2 linked regions of the Homo sapiens genome follow. The protein of the gene in region 1 interacts with the protein of each later gene in a pairwise test. Each region holds a gene or a part of one and is shown on either strand. Other genes may lie near its edges. The genes, in order: ZNF124 and AXIN2.

The links.
Region 2: the proteins of ZNF124 (region 1) and AXIN2 interact in binary tests that used the Homo sapiens proteins (3 or more experiments, as listed by UniProt).

What each region holds. Positions count from the first base shown.
Region 1 is NC_000001.11:247,158,392-247,162,310, reverse strand, and holds part of ZNF124 (zinc finger protein 124), read left to right. Parts: intron 1-2,497; coding exon 2,498-2,624; intron 2,625-3,244; coding exon 3,245-3,305; intron 3,306-3,919. UniProt on the Homo sapiens protein: May be involved in transcriptional regulation.
Region 2 is NC_000017.11:65,555,049-65,558,967, reverse strand, and holds part of AXIN2 (axin-2), read left to right. Parts: intron 1-231; 5' UTR 232-347; coding exon 348-1,162; intron 1,163-3,919. UniProt on the Homo sapiens protein: Inhibitor of the Wnt signaling pathway. Down-regulates beta-catenin. Probably facilitate the phosphorylation of beta-catenin and APC by GSK3B.

The sequences.
Region 1 (3,919 bases):
TTTGCCTTTTAATTGGGGCATTTAGCCCATTTACATTCAAGGTTACTATTCATATGTGTAGATTTGATCTTGTTATTGTGTCGTTAGCTAGTTATTATGCAGACTTGTTTGTATGCTTGCTTTATAGTGTCACTGGTCTATGTACTTACGTGTGTTTTTGTGGTGGCTGTTAATGATCTTTCCATATTTAGCACTACCTTTAGGAACTCTTATAAGGCAGATCTAGTGGGAACAAATTCTCTTAGTAGTTGCTTGTCTGAAAATGATTATGAAGCTTCTTTTGGCTGGATGGGAAATTCATGGTTGGAATTTCTTTTCCTTAAGAATGCTGAATATAAACTCTGATAATGCACAATAAATTTTCTGGACATTAGAGAAAAATTACTGGACTGTAGATTGTGGTAAAGTTCAAATTACTGGAAATAGCAATGGAGTATATCCACTGCCTTGGCCTTCATTTCTGCGTATTTATTTGGTGTGGTAATCACCACTTGAGATTCTCTAATTTTTGTTCTTCTAAAGAATGTGGACTATTATTTACTATTATTATTATAGTAATATGCCATATTATTTGGCTGTTTTATTACCAAGAAAATGGATCTCTTTCCATAAATGGTCTTTTTTCTTGTTATGTATCTTTTGCTTTTTTTTCCCATTTTTTAATCATGTTTTCATTCATTTTTACTGTGCACACTAATTTCTTTTATATTGCATGTATTGCAGATTTTTATTTTACTGTTTTTTGTCTTTTAATTCTCCTAATTTTAATATATTTGAATTTGTCAGTCTCTATTGTTTGCTCCTTTTCTCCTATTCATATGTCAAAAAAAACCTTGTCTGTGACTTCTGCAAGTGGTCTATTTATACTTTTTACTTTTGAATATATGACAAATTGATTATTGTCCAACTAATAGAGGTCAATGCAATTCATTTTTTTCCCAATTAAATACCGGTTAGCTTTGTTCCATGTTTAAAGTGCTTGATACTTCCTTCACTATCCTACAATGCCTCCTCTGTTATTAGTCAGCTTTCCATATCAATTCCAGCTAATTAAAGACTATATGCCTTTCTCTTGGCCTAGTTCTTTATCTCTCTGCTTATACTACACTGCCCTGAATATTATATTTGAAAATCATTGATGTGTATTAGGCAAACCATCACACTGTTATTCAGAAGACTTTGACGGTTGTTAGGCGTTTGTTATTTCTGTAGGTTTTGAAAAGTAGTTTCTGCTGAACTGCTAGAAAGTCTGTTTCAGGCATCTATGAAATTTTACATAAATATCATTTGTAAGAGGTGACATCTAGATGACATTGAGTTTTTTTCTTTGAACGCATGCCTTTTCACTTATTCTATTCTGCTTTGACATTTTTCAGTAGAAATTGTAAAATAATTATTTTTGGATTATTGAATATTGATTATTAGTGTTAATTACCTCTTGATTAAATTTGGGCTTGAGTGAAGCACTTATAAGCTTCTACACATTTTCTCTTTGTGTAACCACGTGGATTGGGCTCAATTTCCCAATTAAAAAGTTGTGACATCATATATGAAATATTATCTACCAGGGAAGCTCATCAGATACTCAGTGCTCAGAGTGTGTTTTTGTTTGTTTATTGAGGCTGATCCCCCTAGGCACCACTGCTACAATAAAACAAAATAATAGACTTTTGGAAGGAAAACAGGGGTTCAGCAAATACCAGATTGTTTAGATAAACTATTTAGCAACAGTGAGCTACTTTTATCACTTAGGTTGTTGGGATGCCTCTTAAAATGTAAGTTCCCTCATACCAGCAAAGGTTGAACTTTGTAGCAGGTATTTCTAAGGGTAAGTAGTCTTGTGACGGCTCATATTAACTCTCTTATGCACACCAGATAGTAAGACTTTGATATGATATGTACTGCAGGTATATGCTATAAAGAAAAATCATAACAGCAAATATTACTCCCTGGACCCACCAACAAGAAGGGTGTTCCTTCTCTGCTGCTGCCTTGCTGAACAGTTCAACTTTAGCATAAGAACTGCTGGCTGAGCGCGGTGGCTCACGCCTGTTATCCCAGCACTTTGGGAGGCCAAGACAGGCAGATCACGAGGTCAAGAGATCGAGGCCATCCTGGCCAACATGGTGAAATCCTGTCTCTACTAAAAATACAAAAATTAGCTGGGCGTGGTGACATGTGCCTGTAGTCCCAGCTACTTGAGAGGCAGAGGCAGGAGAATCACTTGAGCCTGCGAGGCGAAGATTGCAGTGAGCTGAGACGGTGCCACTGCACTCCAGCCTGGCAACAGAGTGAGACTCCGTCTCAAAAAAAAAAAAAAAAAAAAAAAAAGAACTGCTATGTGGGAGAAAGGAAGTGTAGACAGAGTCATAGTTCTAGTGACCAAATAGTAGAATAAATGTTCGCCACAGAATCAGATGAACATCTTATAAATTGACTACAGATTTCCAGTGCTTTCAGTCTCATCCATCCTCTACAAAAATGTGGAATATTTTAGAACTCGGTTGCCTTTGAGGATGTGGCTGTGAACTTCACCCAGGAGGAGTGGGCTTTGTTGGATCCTTCCCAGAAGAATCTCTATAGAGACGTGATGCAGGAAACCTTCAGGAATCTGGCTTCCATAGGTAAGAATCACAATATTTCTTCACTTAGTCAATCAGAAAGTAAGTGTTTCATGGTTTTCAATGTCATTCCATGATTTGGAATGTACAAAGGGAACACTTTGATGAGTGAATGAGGCATGGACCCAGTGTGCAATGACTCTTGTTTCTTAGTCTATTTTTTAATTGTGATAACAGAATACCTGATCCTGGGTAATTTACAAAAATAGTTTTATATTGGTTTATGATTCTAGTGGCTAGAAAGTCCAAGGTTGCATCTGGTAAGGACCTGATGCTACTTCAGCTCAGGGCATGAAGCAGAAGCAAGTGGGCATGTGCAAAGGGATCACAGCAAGAAAATAAGAGCAATTCTTGGGAGCTAAACTTGCTTTTATAACAACCTGCCCTCTGGCAACTAATTCAGTCTTGCAAGAGTAAGAGAAAACATGCATTCCCAAGCAAGGACATTAATCTATTAATAAGGAATCTGTACCCATAACACAAACAATGTTGCCATATTGATGACCAAATTACAGCATTCATTTTGGTGGGTACAAACCATATCCCCAACATAGCACCTAGAGTCTAGTAATTTTTCTATAATTTCAAATAATTTGTAATATATTTCTGGGTCTACATTTTAGGAAACAAAGGGGAAGACCAGAGCATTGAAGATCAGTACAAAAATTCTTCAAGAAATCTAAGGTAATTTGCCCTCACAAGAGGAAGCAGTCCCCCTTGGGGTCAATTGTAGTATATAATCATATGTTTAAAGCAAACAAGGCCAGGCATGGTGGCTCACACCTGTAATCCCAGCACTTTGGGATGCTGAGGTGGGCGGATCACCTGAGGTCAGGAGTTTGAGACCAGCCTGACCAACACGGCAAAAACCCGTCTCTACTAAAAATACAAAATTAGCCCAGTGTGATGGTGCATGCCTGTAATCCCTGCTGTTTGGGAGGCTGAGGCAGGAGAATTGCTTGAACCTGGGAGGCGGAGGTTGCAATGAGCTGAGGTTGTGCCATTGCACTCCAGCCAGGGAAACAAGAGCAAAACACCATCTCGGGGAAAAAAAAAAACCAAGCAAACAAAATAAATTAAGACAACATCAATTTATTCTCAAAGTTTTTACCAAAAATATATACTTCAATGTAACATGGATGTTAAATGTTTGCAAAATAGTTCACTTGAAAACAGTATTGTTTTAGTCTGCTTGCATTGCTATAAAGGAATACCTAGGCTGAGTAATTTATAAGGAAGAGTTTTATTTGGCTAATGGTTCTGCAGGCTTTATCAGAAGCATAAAGCCAGCATCTGCT
Region 2 (3,919 bases), on another chromosome or scaffold:
CTCCCTCCCACCCCCAACCCCGAAAAGTGTGCAGGGAGCTCAGATTTCGCTTTTGAAAAGCAGCGCCTGATACTTTAGATGAGCACCTCGCAGATAGCTGGGTTGCTTGATTTGAATTTGAGGAGTTGAAAAGCCTGTTTACTTTCTTGCTTTGATGTTGGGTAGATCTGGTTTTGATTAGATCAATACCCTTTTCTCTCTCCCCACCTCCCCCCTTCCTTTTCTTTCCAGAGAGGAGGTTCAGATGAGCCCCTGCTGACTTGAGAGAGACAGAGAGACCACGCCGATTGCTGAGAGGAACTGGAAGAAGAAAAATTCCCAGACTCAGTGGGAAGAGCTCCCTCACCATGAGTAGCGCTATGTTGGTGACTTGCCTCCCGGACCCCAGCAGCAGCTTCCGTGAGGATGCCCCGCGGCCCCCAGTGCCAGGGGAAGAAGGGGAGACCCCACCGTGTCAGCCAGGGGTGGGCAAGGGCCAGGTCACCAAACCCATGCCTGTCTCTTCCAACACCAGGCGGAACGAAGATGGGTTGGGGGAGCCGGAGGGGCGGGCATCTCCGGATTCCCCTCTGACCCGGTGGACCAAGTCCTTACACTCCTTATTGGGCGATCAAGACGGTGCTTACCTGTTCCGAACTTTCCTGGAGAGGGAGAAATGCGTGGATACCTTAGACTTCTGGTTTGCCTGCAATGGATTCAGGCAGATGAACCTGAAGGATACCAAAACTTTACGAGTAGCCAAAGCGATCTACAAAAGGTACATTGAGAACAACAGCATTGTCTCCAAGCAGCTGAAGCCTGCCACCAAGACCTACATAAGAGATGGCATCAAGAAGCAGCAGATTGATTCCATCATGTTTGACCAGGCGCAGACCGAGATCCAGTCGGTGATGGAGGAAAATGCCTACCAGATGTTTTTGACTTCTGATATATACCTCGAATATGTGAGGAGTGGGGGAGAAAACACAGCTTACATGAGTAATGGGGGACTCGGGAGCCTAAAGGTCGTGTGTGGCTATCTCCCCACCTTGAATGAAGAAGAGGAGTGGACTTGTGCCGACTTCAAGTGCAAACTTTCGCCAACCGTGGTTGGCTTGTCCAGCAAAACTCTGAGGGCCACGGCGAGTGTGAGGTCCACGGAAACTGTTGACAGTGGATACAGGTAAGACTTTGACGGGGGCGGGTGGGCTGATGCTGTGGACTTTGCAGATGTTTTAAGTATGGTGGATGGGTGGATGGGTGTGCTGCAGAGACTGACAGGTCTGTTGAGTTAGGACTGCTGGCCATGAACCCTTTTTGATCTTGCTTTTTGTTGTTGAAACAGGGGGAAAGCGATGCACATACAGTAAATACCTGCAGTCTTCCAGTGCTGACTTCAAACAGTGGCAAGCAGTATTCACTAATGTGGGTTACTTATTATCCCGGGCTAGTGTCTCAGAAGAGGTTGAGAGAGAGAGAGAGGACAGCAGCTTTTGATGCCTCTGAGTCACCAGATCCACTAAGCGCCGGTTTTGGAAGGGGTCACTTCACCACTAATCAGTAGAGGGTGGAATTAATGTGGCTAGGGAGGCAGCTGGGTTGTGGTGGAGGCACAGGAAATAATATGTGCACCCATTGAGGGGTAAGTGGGATTTTTTTTTGAACTTTTCTGTTAAGATAAGAGCCAGCAATTGGCTTAACTGAGCTTGTGGTTCCCTTTGTAGAATTAGATATTTACCCAGCAAGAAAGGCCTCTAACTAGGGAAGGTCCTGTGACTTTCCCAAATGAAGGACCCTTACCTTTAGAGCTTGCTGGCATATTAATCCAGGTTTTAAATGCTCATGAGTCCGAGGGTCAGACTTCAGTTGATTATTTTGTTAGTGCTGATGGAGAAGAGATCTTGGCCCGGGAGTACTGGGGCCCTGGAGTACTTTCTCTTTGAGGCTTCAAAGACAAATAGTTCTTTGCAGAATGGCCAAGTCTTAAGATTCTTGACCTTTGGAGGCAACTTCAGACCTCTTGTTAGAATGAGTTTTTCTGTTTTCTCCCCTCCTCCCGACTTCCAAATATCCGAAAAGAGAATGAGCCTCTTAATTCCGGGGTGTGGTTTTATGACAGGCAGGGGATGGGGCTGCACTTGACTGCTCTCTGAATGATTTATCTTGCTCTCTGTGTGAATTTCTCTGTGTGTTAGGGGCCCAGGATGCGGTCTGATAGCTGCCTCTGGATTTCCCTTTCTCTGTAGGATGTGGTCTCTAGTGCCCAGCAGCAGGAAGAGAGGTGGGCACCAGATGGTTGATCTTGAGCCTCTCAGGGTGGCCAGGTCTGAGCCTAGCGGGCCATGATTTTAGGGGCGGCAGAGAGAGTTGACTGTTGGCGAGGAGAGGAAGGGCTTGTTCTCCAACCACCAGGGGGCGCGCTTGTGGCTTGGGAACCAGTTTTACTCAGACATCTGGTCTACACCTAAGTGGAACCAGGTTGACTTTTGCAAGGAAACACAGGTTCCAGGGAGGTGTTTCAGTGTCTTTATGCTTGTGGAGTCAAGTTGTCTGGGAGGAAGATCCTGGGTCTGGCCTCTGCAGTAGGTCAGTCGCCGGGCACCTGCTACGCCTGCCCGCCCCATTATGAGACCATTTGGGTAAGCCTCTGGCGCTGGCCTCCTTGCCCTCTAGCCTGGCAGCCAGAGCTGAGACTACTTAAGAGCCGTGGTAAAGGCTGCTTCTCCAGGGGCCTCCTGACTGGGGCTTCTGTGTCTCCCACTGCCGGGACCAGAGTGTCACCTTCGTAAATAGCACAGTGTGTGGTTTTGGACGCCCTCCCCAGGCAGGGCTCTGCTGTGAACCCTCCCCTTTGTGGGTGGGCAGTTGCGACTCAGCCTGGGCTTGCCTCATCTGGGATATTACCAGGATGCAACTCATGAAGCTTTTGAGATCCAGAAGGCAGGGACAGAAGCTCCTGTTTTCCAGGGCTGCCTTCTTGGCTGTGAACCGTGGACATCACTGATAAAGAGGTGACAGCTTGTCATTGACCTGAGAGTTTCCATACGAGATTCACGTGTGCCTTCTCCCACTGTTGGGTTGAGATGAAGCATCTTAAAGGACTCTCTGAAGCTCATATGTCTTAACTGGGCATATTTAAAGAGAATTTAAGACATAGCCAGATGATCTCACATCATTTTAACGTGCAAGATATTCGAGTGTGTGCACAGTGTATGGAAAGGTCTGCTGACTCCTTATTCAAAGGCTTGCATTCCAGCCCGGTCCACCACTTACTGCTTGGGTGTTGAAGCCTTTCTGAATGGCATGTGCCCATCTGTAAAATGGGTGGGCACCATTCCTTCTGTCTGTGTCATAGGATTGTTATTAGGACCAAAATAATAAACATGAAAGCCTTTTGTAGAGAGAAACGTTTTGAACCGCCGCAAAGTGTTATAATTAGTATAATTAGTAATGATGATGTAAATAGGACAACCAGGTTGGGATGTCACTTTTAAAGGGTGACTCTTGGCTTAGCCCATTTTCCATTGTAAGGTTTTAGAGTGGCCCCCTGACCCCCATGCCTCAACTTTCTTATTGAACTGAAGTCTGTTTTTCCAGCTAGTTCTTGGAATGTAGAGATCCCATCTAAGGTTTAAGTTCCCCCCTTCCCTCTCCCGCACACTCACTCATTCTGCAGAGTACCTGGCATCTGGGATGGGCTTAATAAGTTAGTAAAATGAATGGAACAGAAACGTCAGTGCTGCTGAGGATGGTCTTTCTTCATCAGCTGCTGAGGAGCGGTCTTGGCAGCCGGATGCCTGGGGCACTGGCCAGGCTTGCAAGCCCTGTGTTTACCTCGGGCACTCAAAGGAGCCTCGTTTTTAACGACTTGTTTGTGTCCTTACTGATTTGGTGTCAGGTTTAATATAAATAGTTGGGGCGGAAGAGCAGGAATTATCCT